3 linked regions of the Homo sapiens genome follow. The protein of the gene in region 3 purifies or fractionates together with the protein of the main gene of each other region. This does not show direct contact. Each region holds a gene or a part of one and is shown on either strand. Other genes may lie near its edges.

The links.
Region 1: the proteins of ELAC2 (region 3) and EIF2D fractionate together in Homo sapiens (co-fractionation; one large-scale study listed by BioGRID). This does not show direct contact.
Region 2: the proteins of ELAC2 (region 3) and PFKP fractionate together in Homo sapiens (co-fractionation; one large-scale study listed by BioGRID). This does not show direct contact.

Annotation. Positions count from the first base shown.
Region 1 is NC_000001.11:206,602,398-206,606,045, forward strand, and holds part of EIF2D (eukaryotic translation initiation factor 2D), read right to left. Parts: intron 3,111-3,648; coding exon 3,003-3,110; intron 808-3,002; coding exon 554-807; intron 57-553; coding exon 1-56. UniProt on the Homo sapiens protein: Translation initiation factor that is able to deliver tRNA to the P-site of the eukaryotic ribosome in a GTP-independent manner.
Region 2 is NC_000010.11:3,070,500-3,074,147, forward strand, and holds part of PFKP (ATP-dependent 6-phosphofructokinase, platelet type), read left to right. Parts: intron 1-3,648. UniProt on the Homo sapiens protein: Catalyzes the phosphorylation of D-fructose 6-phosphate to fructose 1,6-bisphosphate by ATP, the first committing step of glycolysis.
Region 3 is NC_000017.11:12,993,914-12,997,561, forward strand, and holds part of ELAC2 (zinc phosphodiesterase ELAC protein 2), read right to left. Parts: intron 2,773-3,648; coding exon 2,634-2,772; intron 2,066-2,633; coding exon 2,027-2,065; intron 1,900-2,026; coding exon 1,790-1,899; intron 1,150-1,789; coding exon 1,050-1,149; intron 972-1,049; coding exon 851-971; intron 591-850; coding exon 512-590; intron 1-511. UniProt on the Homo sapiens protein: Zinc phosphodiesterase, which displays mitochondrial tRNA 3'-processing endonuclease activity. Involved in tRNA maturation, by removing a 3'-trailer from precursor tRNA.

The sequences.
Region 1 (3,648 bases), on a different chromosome or scaffold from region 3:
GACTCGGCACTTCAAGGCATGTAAGAAGCATTGCTGTAACAGCTCATCCATTTGTTCTGCAGGGAAAAGACAAGAGCCACATCCTTCCTGAGGGATACAGAACACCTGGTACAAGAAAACGACCCCCAGCTTCATCCCTACCTCACCCACTTGGCTCTGAAAGGAACCCATTCCCAGGTACCAAAGCTCCCAGCCTCTCTTGAGCACTGAGCCTTTAAAGAGGGTTGACCCCAGAGAAGGAGTCAAGCCACAAAGTCCCACCAAGCTAGGAGTGTTCACCCAGAGAAGTTGAGCCAGAAGAAACCTTGGAGGGCTTTGTAGCTGAAGACAGGCAAATGCCAGGGCAGATTAGCTCCCAGGAAGACGTGACTTATGTGGAAAGGATTCAAAAACAAGATGTGAAAGGGCTGCTGCGCCACCCTCACAGAAAATAAGGACCTTCCCCTCCTCCCCCGGAAGCTTAAGGGCCATTCTAGTCAGCAGTGGAGTGGAGTTCGTCAGGCTCCTAAATTGAGAGGTGGGGAGATGGGCTCTTCTCCTCCTAGAGTTATACCTTGAAGCGTTTTGCTATCTGTGGAGTCTTGGTTCAGGCCCCTGGTGCTGGTGTCTTCTGGGGCTTCTGAGAGAGACTTGTCTTCACGTGCCTGGTGAACCTCCCCATTCTCCTCTTCCCCCTCCAGGGTCATGTGCCTCATGTCTCCCTGCAGGGTGGAGTCCATCTGGACAGACCCCTTCTCTTCACTGAGATCTGCTGAATCCAGGGCCAGTGGAGCAATGGAAGGTGGAGAGGACTTGTTTCCAGACCGCCTGGAAAAATCTCATGTCAGAAACATCAAGCAGCAGCTCCAATACTCTCCAGCCCTGGCCACAGAGGAGTCAGCAGTGAGGTCAGAGACAGCAGAGAGCCAACAGGCAGGAGTGGCCAGGAGGGGGCAGAGAGCCTGTGCCCTCATCTCAAGCGTACTTTCAATTCTGGGCCCCTAAAAGTTCCATGCCTCAGTTTCTTCATCTCTGAAATGGGGAGAATAAATCTTGTCTCCTCCCTATCCCAAAAGAATAATACTATTAATAGACATCCCAAGACTGAGAAAGATTAAAGAAAAAGGAGTTTAAGATAAACTCCCAAAAATGTTCCCTTCATCTGAGTTAATAACAAAACCAATTTGAATTAAATATGAACATTAAGATCGCGAATGCATCTGTAATATCTGTTTGGTGAAATGCAAACCCACGGCTCAGCATATGTAATAAAACACAAACACCTGGACTGCTCAAGGACTGCAAAATCAGTGGCTTCTGTGTTACATCAAATGCAGTCTAACGTGGAAAGCAGAGATTGCCATGGTTTTATGCCACTAAGCCTTAGGAAGACAGGAAAACAGGCGATGCCACATAGCAAAGCACACAAAGCAGTAAAAAACTTTATCTTAGCCAACATTATGCAAATCAAACTAAGTTTTAACTAATAGTTACGGCAAGGCTTCTCAGTGTTGTTCACAGTAAAGCCAAAGGGTATGTTTAGGCTATTCTGATCAGGTAAATACCATAAATATTTTTTTCAAGGTGCAGCGAGAGAACCAAAGCAGCTGCTGCTAAAACAACTTAGACAACCTGACCTTGATTGCTGTTGCCCAGACTGATAGTTAAACAACAAGGTGCTAGGAGAACATCAGTCATCAGCCCTCAAATATCTAAAAACAGGCAAAAATGAGCTTGTACCAGCAAAGGAGGACTTGGCAAGTACTTGTAAAATCAGTAAGTCCGGCGGGGAGCGGTGGCTCACGCCTGTAATCTCAGCACTTTGGGAGGCCTAGATGGGCAGATCACGTGAGGTTAGGAGTTCGAGACTAGCCTGGCCAACACGGTGAAACCCTGTCTCTACTAAAAACAAAAAAATTAGCCGGATGTTTTGGGCACAAGCCTGTAATCCCAGCTACTCGGGAGGCTGAGGTAGGAGAATCACTTGAACCGAGAGGCAGAGGTTGCAGTGAGCTGAGATTGCGCCACTGCACTCCAGCCTGGGCAACAAGAGCAAAACTCCATCTCAAAAAAAAAGGCTGGGCGCAGTGGCTCACACCTGTAATCCCAGCACTTTGGGAGGCCGAGGTGGGTGGATCACAAGGTCAATGGATCGAGACCATCCTGGCTAACATGGTGAAACCCCGTCTCTACTAAAAATACAAAAAATTAGCCGGGCGTGGTGGGAGGTACCTGTGGTCCCAGCTACTCAGGAGGCTGAGGCAGGAGAATGGAGTGAACCGGGAGGTGGAGCTTGCAGTGAGCTGAGATCACGCCACTGCACTCCAACCTGGGCGACAGAGCGAGACTCCATCTCAAAAAAAAAAAAAAAAAAAATTAATAATTCCAAGACTGGGCTGGAAAATATAAGAATGAATCTATACCAACAGGCCACAATACTTGGCTAAATGTGTGCTTTGAGAAAATCACTGCTTACTGTTTTGCTAAAATGACAAGAAAATAACCAGAAAATGAACAGGTACGCGTCTCAAGAATGCAACCTTTACAGTCAGAATGCGTTACTTTCATGAGGAGGAGGAGTCTGGAATGTGAAATCTGAATAACATAAAAGTAATCAGGTTATAATCCTGGAGTCTAAAGGTCTACCCTGCAGTGATTAGGATTCAGAAGCACTCATCATGGGGTCACATGATGTCTAAAATGTGCATCGCAGCTAGGGCCAGATTGACCAGGGCTATAAAAAAACGAGTATCACTGTACTGAGAGGCAGAGCAGATGATCCCTAAGGTCTTCCTTTGGGTCTAAGATTCTATAATTCACTTAGAAAATAAAGTTCTCTCTCATTACTTGTCCAAACAGGGGAAAAAAATATTTTCTTTATATTTGTAAGGAAATAAAAGTCTGGGCTTAGCAACTTGCTTAAAGACATGGCTAGGACCAAAACTCTCACTCCTGAATCACAGGCCCCATCCTCTCCCCAGCTGCCCCGGTTCTCTGTAAAACAGAAGAAACTCTGTACCCACCACAAGTGGTCCTGGTAAGTGTGGAGCACAGAGAAGCCCCTTCCCTTCAGGCCTGACGTGAGCATCTCAGCTGTGGACATGGCTGCAACTCCAATGGCTACAGGGGCTCTAAGAAGAAGGAAGCCAGAGACCAGGGTCATGGAAAATCTATGGGAAGGGCACATGTTAGGATCATCTTCTGACACATGTGGTAAAAATACCAAGGTTACCAATTCGAAGGTCTTGTATCATAAAACCAAACTCAGTCCACTCTCAGTTTTCTTCAGATTATGTACAAATATTACTTTCAAAAATCCCTTGACCAAATATTAAACTAAACACTAAACTTCTGTATTAGTAACTCCTCTATTGACTTTATCACTGCCTTTGTTTTATTCCTGCTGTGAATTAAATCTCCAGGTGGGTCTTGGAAGGATATTTAATGTTCCCTTTCATTAATTTCAAAAATATAAATTATCTCCTCTACCTTAAAGAAGTCATAGCCATCCCATAAGGAAGTTTAAAGGGGAGGCAATTCATATATCATAAATTAGGCTGAGGGATGCCATAGGGAAGAGAGAAGAGACACATAGTGGGGCCAACTAGAGAAGTTCCTTCTAAGTTGACTTTATAAGAGGGGTTGCTCAGTGTAACTATATATCTAAGA
Region 2 (3,648 bases), on a different chromosome or scaffold from region 3:
TAAAATTCCGTATATTAAGATGATCATAGCTACCATTTGTTGAAAACATTTTGTATTCTAAGAGCTTTACACTTCTTATCTCCAAGCCTAAATACATGATCCCAAGAGAGGCGTGTCCTCATTTTGGAAGTGGGGAGAAAGACTCAGAAAGAAAAGTAAGTTAGGTAAGGGCATGAGGTGCATACGTGATTGTGATAGGAGCAAAACAGATCTTAATTCCAAATATTGTACTCTCCCGTAGACCACGAAGAGTACTTATGTCTGGCTGTGTCACCCAGGCCAGAGTGTAGTGGTGCCATCATAGCTCACTGCAGCCTCAAACTCCTGGGCTCAAGTGATCCTCCTGCCTCAACCTTCTGAGTAGCTGGGAAGACAGGAATGCACCATCATGACCAGCTAATTATTATTATTATTATTATTATTATTTTTGTAGAGACAGGATCTCACTATGCTGCCGAGACTGGCCTTGAACTCCTGGCCTCCTGTAGTGATCCTCCTGCCTTGGCCTCCCAAAGAGCTGGGACTACAGACATGAGCCATTGTGTCAGGCCTCCACCATCTCCACCATGTTTTTCAGGGACCTTTCTTGGTGAAGCTGCTTTATCTAGTTAATGCTCAAAAGTGAGCAAAACCCGATTTGCCCAAAATTACACAGATATTCTTTGGGTGGCTTTGTTAGGGGAACGGAAAATGCCTTTTTATAGTGATAGGAGTCCAGGTGGCAAGAACGATATTATGTGATGGGCTGCTTTTTCTTCTCTCAGTAGAGTGTATATTATTTAATTATAAGATACAATTGAAAATCTCTTTCTCTTTTCTATATTCCCGACTCCCCGGGCCTTGAATGAAGAAAGTATTTCTCAGGCTGTTTTTGTTTGTTTGTTTGTTTGTTTTTTCTACTTGCTTGGATATCTTCTGTCTCAGGCTGTTTTTTTTTTTTTTTTTTTTTTCTTTCTCTTCTTCTGCCTCTTTATGTATCTTCTGTTGTCCCAAGACATGTCTGGAAACTTAAATTGATTTTCACTCAATCTGAAATAAGCTCCATAACTCTGAATGGCGGACTTACCATGACTAAGTCCCCACTGCCACAGAACACTGTGCCACACACCAAGAGTGACTCATTGTCTTAGTCACAGGTTGTGGCTTCTGAAGGTCCTGGTGCCTGGTGGAGCTGAGTGTACTGGGAAGTCCAGGTGCATCCTTAGGGTAGGCTGCATGTGAAAGCTGCGTCCTTTTTGCCTGTGGTGAGGTGAATATCAATACAGTATTTATAGAAAGTCCACATAAATTGAGTAAGTACAAACCTTTCCAATCCTAGTGAGAATAACTAGCATTAATGACTCTTTGTTATGTGGCAGGGCCTCAGTGATCCTGGGCAATGACTTATCCCTATTTTACACATGAGCAAGGGGCGCCTGAGTTGCACCACCTTCCCTGAGTTCACAGAGCTCCGTGGTGGGGCCGGGCCCTGTGGCTGCAGCAGGGATGTTCAGGGCTGCGCGTACCTGCGTCTTCACTGGTGTCTTTCCCGCGCCCAGCACCATGCCTGGCGCTTCGCAGGAATGCAAGTGTTTGCTGCCTGCCTCCTGCCTGGAATCTCCACTGAGGAGCAGGAAACCAGGGGTTCTAGCTGTCTTCTTCGTCCATGAAGTCCTTTAGAGGAATTCAACCCTCTCTAATTAAAAGTATCCAATATCCTCAGGTCAATATGTGTAAACTGTTAAGACTTCAAGATTAGAACCTTAAAACCGAAGTCAGAAGTGTGAGGTTTCCATTGGCTGGACGTGCATTAGGTCAATGACACACATATTTATTGGACACCAGGCTTGAGCCCCACATGGGCACCTTTGGTGTCTGAAGCAATGCTGGCTTCGGAGCCCAGTAGGGTGGAAGGGGAAACTGAGAACAGCGCCATTTTGCCTCCCACGGCTCTGGGCCCGTTACCTTCCTGTGTACATACATTATTTGATGGGATCTTTTCAGTGTAAAGTGCAGTAATTAATTTTGCAAAAATTACTGGGTCTGGGAGGCAGTGTGTTGGAATGATGGTGTCACCATGTGGCACAGTGGGAGATTTGTGTAATGGCATCATTTTCTGTGAATGCAGACCGTTTTGTGTGCCATACTCGAATGACCCTTCGAAGCTAGACATTTTGTCATCTTTCGAAAGAAGCATGTTTTCCCCCTTGGTTACAGAAAGCTAAAAGCTTTTGATACAGGACTCCAACCTTTTATCAGGGAGAATTAGGCTCTTTAAATAATTAGGGCTCTACCAATCTGATGGGCCATCAGAAGCAATTAAAATTAGAAAGGTGAAGATACGGTAACGTAGTCAGGACAAACATCAGGATACCAGATTGCACGTTCACAATGGCATTTCGGCTAAGAAAGTGCGGGTGAATATAGAACAGAGGGCCGTATGTCAGTAATTGGGTTCCGTTTTGTGTTTCTTTTCCACAAGCCCTTTCTGGTGTTGTGTTTTTGTTTATTAGAGAGTAGCTGCCCAAAGGCTACAGTTTCCCTCCCCACTCCTCGGTTCTCTCCGTCTTCACCCCCAACTCCCAGTCCTGTGTTTGGAATTACAGTCATTGTGCTTGTCAGGATGTAAGAGGCAGCCAGACACATGGCAGACCAGAGCACTGAGAGGCAGAGACATTTATAGGTCCTAGCCCTGGTCCTGCTGTCTGGGTCAGCAGGGTGCTGAGTGCTGAGTGCTGAGATAGGGTCTTGATGTTTTCCTCTGCAGAATGGAGGCATCACTCAGTCTCTGTCTCCTCTCCCTGTCTCTGTCTTCCCTCCCCTCTTCCCTAACACATATCCACAGTGAAAGTGTTCAGGAGGAAAAGAGAATAGGCTGGACTGTGCTGGGACCCCCAACCCCAGGGCCCGTGTGCTATTTTCCCAGCCTCCGTGTGCCCAGAGATGCCTAGGGGAGCCTGCGGAGGTGTAGATCCTGACTGTGTGGGTCTGAGTGAGGCTCCGACTCTCACGGGGAGGGCACCGGTGCTGCTGGACCCCCTGGGGCCAGTGGAGCGGTTTGCAAATCGGGCAGATCAGCTTCTCCACTTCTCCAGGTTTCCCCAATGTGAGATGCTCCCAGGAGTCCCATGGGATTGTTTTCTGACTTTGACCAGGATTTTGACAGAGAAGATTCATTAATATAGGACCCCTTGTCTAAACGTACATATGTAAATGATCTGATCCGAAGTTTCCTGAATGGAAAATGATTGAAAGGGTGGCATGCAGTAGCCTCGGGGAGTCAGTCCTTCATATCTTTTCAGCTGTGTCTTACTACGATTAAGATTTTATTTCTGTGTGTGTGTGTGTTTTTTTTGTTTGTTTGTTTGTTTGTTTTTGAGACGGGATCTTGCCCTCTTGCCCAGCCTGGAGTGCAGTGGCTTGATGTCGGCTCACTGCAACCTCCGCCTCCTGAGTTCAAGCGATTTTCCTGTCCCAGCCTCCCAAGTAGCTGGGATTACAGGCATGCGCCACCATGCTCACCTGATCTTTTTTGTATCGTTAGTAGAGATGGGTTTCACCGTGTTGGTCAGGCTGGTCTCGAACTCCTGACCTCAAGTGATCCACCTGCCTTGGCCTCCCAAAGTGCTGGTATTACAGGCTGGAGCCACTGCACCCAGCCTTATTTCT
Region 3 (3,648 bases):
AACTGCCAGGGCACCCGGGGAAGCTGGTGGGTTTTCTTAACGGGCACCTCCGTAGCCAGCACAATCTCCCCTGAGGGCCAGAGCCTTCGCACACACCCCTGGATGAAGCCCACCCTCTGTGCTGGCTGCCAAATCTGTCCATGAGGGCACCCAAGAGAAACCACAGGGCCCACCTGGGGTAATGCACTCTTTCGTTGAAATTAGCAGCCAAAAATTCAGTCCCCCAGCCCCCGCCTTCCCCTGGCAATTCCCTGACATGGCTTATAGTTTATTCAGCCGATTTCTAGATGCTTTCAAAAAACTGTGCCTCACTCTAGAATCTTGCTTAGAAAATTCTGCAAAAATAAAGGCCAAGAGCCTGTGAGCACTGCCACAGGTCAAGGAAGCCCCCATAGCCCTTGATAGGAAGCAGGGCAGCCCCACATCAGTGGAGACAAACGACGGCTGCTCAGTGTCACGTAGTGGGGGAGGGAGAGGATGTGGGCGACAAGGACTGACCGGCCTTTGCTACCTGTGTGTCTTTTCCACTGCTTCCTCTTCCAAACCATCTTCCAGGGTGGCTTCATGTATCAGGAGGGTGGCATCTTTCCCTGGAGAAGCAGCACAAGGATCAGGGCAGAGTTCTCTGCGAGAGCGGCACACAGGCCTCAGTCACGTGCTGTTTCCTGGTCTCAACACTCAGCTCCCCTGGCCCTGGGTCTGCCTACTAGGATGACAACCAGAGACTCTGAGGGTGGGGACCTGAGTCTCCTGCCTCTGCTGACGTTTCCCTGCAAGCCCACCTGCATTCACCTCCAGCTACACAAACCCCAGAGCAACCTCAGGGTGGCTTGCTTCTTCCTCTACTCACCCATCCGGACCAGAGCCTCGCAGGGCATGGTGTCCCCGGAATAGACCACTTTCCAGCCAGAGGTGTGCACCAGCGCACAGCCAAACGCATGCTTGCAGTGCCGCACCAGACAGGTCTGAAACTGAAAGGGTGGGGCTGGAGGGCTCTGCAGCTCTGCTCCCCACCTCGCCCCCATGATGCCTGCGGCTGTGCCCCTTACCTCTTCCAAATCACATGTTCGCAACAGCGAACTGATCAATCTTTCCACTGCAGGACTGGAGATCTCAGCCCCTTCCTGAAGGCATTTGGCAGGAATCATACTGTAAAAAGACAAAACATTTAAAATGATAATAAACGTTTCTTGGACATCTGGAACCAAAGTTTAAGTCTTTGGCTGGAGAACCCCAAAATCATTCTTAGGAGAAAACATGAGTTAAATCATAGTCACTATGATGAGGAAACAGCAGTCAAATATAAAGAGCCAAACCAAAGCCTCTAGGCCACTGGGAGAAACCCAGCAGGTGAATGCTGCCTCCGGCTCAGGCAGCACGGGCCACGGATGGCTCCAGCAGAGGGGACTCCTTCCCCTTGGGGTGAGGATGGTGCCACCTGCCAGCTAGCCACACACCTGCTATGGACATTCTCTGTGCTAGCCACTATTTGGGTGCTTGGCTCTGGAACTGTCTCATCAAGAAAAGCTGCTCGAAGTTTAGAAAGCAGCTCAGAACTCAAATGAGGACTGGGAAGAAATGCTTCTAAGAAAATAAGCATTACATGGGAACTATCTAATGGTTTCTGTCCTTCAGCCAATGCACTTCTCCCCTGCTTCTGCCATCTGGGACCATGTCAAGGGCAAGGCTGCTGGGGGATATTGGTAACTACCCCAGTGTCCACCTTGAGCTTCTGAAGGAGACGGCAGCAAGCAACAGCCCAGCGGGCCAGGCTGCCCTGGATGCTCACCTGATGTGGTGCAGGACCTCCTGGCACTGGTTGTGGTACTGCTGGAGCCAGGCTTTGAGCTGGTTGGGGGCAACCACCAGCAAAGGGTGAAGCGGCTTTCCCAAAGATGCCTGGAACAAAAAATGCAAGTGCCGACTCGACGACAGAACATCTCAATAAAAACTGGAGTGCCAAGAGGCATGGCGGATGATGTGTAAACCGCTGAAACTCAGAACGCCCATCAAGTGCCACACTTACCAAGGCGCGTTCTCTCTGCAGCAAGATACTTGGCAAGCCCTGGCAAGGAAACAGGAGACATGCGTCAGCCAGGCCCCAGGGCCATCCCCTCCGGGTTAGGGTCTGCAGCCCTCTCTCTTGCAGGAGTTGCCAGCCCGACGTCACCCACCAGCCTCTAACACAGCCGCAGTGGGGGTGGCACAGGCCGAGCCCCCTGCGCCATGGCCCTGAAATGTCACAGGCAGAAAGCGACACGACCCGTGCTGGGAAGAGGGCAACGGCCCAGGGCCCGGCACCCCAGGAGACCAAGGTGAGGGTCTCATAGCCACACCTCCTGCATCCGGTCAAAGCTTCCGCTGAGCAGGCCGTGTGAGATTCAAGACTCAAGGAAGGCTGGGTAAACTCAAACCTGTCCTGCTGCAGGAAAGGAACTGAACAGGAAGAGAAGACATTCTTGTGGCGCAGAAGGACTATGTTGAGTTTTGCAAAAAACCATTTCCTAGCCAGAGATGAGTAACAAAAGCTCTGGGCAAGTTTGGAAGCGGAGGAAAAGACGCAGCCAAAGGGCCAACTCAACGTGGCAGTGCCTCCTCCAGGCTCCAGCTTTGTGGTCCAGCCCAACACTCACCGTGTGGTGATCTGCGTGCAGGTGGGACACAAACACAGCAGCCAGGGTGCCCAGGACCCTGTCCACCTGGTCTCCGTAATGACGGCACAGCTGCCCAAATGTGCCCTCACCACAGTCCAGTAGCAGAGACGTGTCGGGGCTGCAGAAGAGAAGAGGAAGAGAGTCACTGCCACTAGGAAGACTGCTGATGGTTCAGAGGCTGATGTCTGCTTTGGACAGGACCAAGAAGCAACTGCAGAAATTTCTGTCTCTCCTGCTTTGCTTTGAGGAGCTAATATAAAAGCCAATTAATTTAACCATAAAGGTGATTTTACATGTGTCATCCTCTTTATAGCAAAGAAGTATCCATGGAACCCTGAAACCCTTTCAAGTAGACTTACACAAAGGCTGGGCATCAAAAAAAAAAAAAAAAAGTTTATAGGAGGCTTAAAGCATTTAGTCCTAACAATGAATCTGACCATGCAGATTGACTGTGGCCACAGCCTCTGTTGAAAATACCAGGACAGGCACTGGGCCATATGAGACTCTTTCTAGGTCCAGCTGCCATCGGACTTTTCCCCCTTTGCAAGTGGTCGGGGTTTCCTCAGCTCATGTCCTCAAAGACACCTGGTGCAGGGCGGGCTGCAGGTGCTTCATTCAGGGAGCCAGTTAACGCAGACTCCCAGGTGTCACTCGGGGTTTCTGACTTGGTTTTAGGCAGGGCTCTGGAAGTCTGGATTCTGACAAACTTCTTGGGCTATTCTGCTGTGCAGTCCATTTCAGAAGCTCTGCTCCAAGGCAGAGAGAGTGCTGACCCGCTCTGGCCTCCTTCATTCTCTGGGAGGAGCCACGAACACTGAGAGGGCTGCACCCATTTTGCAGAGAGAAGCCCCGGTGCTAAGACATTACCTTCTGGGGGAAAAAGGAGTCGGGAGGCGGAGGCAAGGTGGCAATAGCACCTTCCCATTAGCTTCAGCTGGTTCAAAAGCTGCTCGCAGGGTGTCAGGTCAAACTCAAAAAGCCCTTCTTCCCCCAG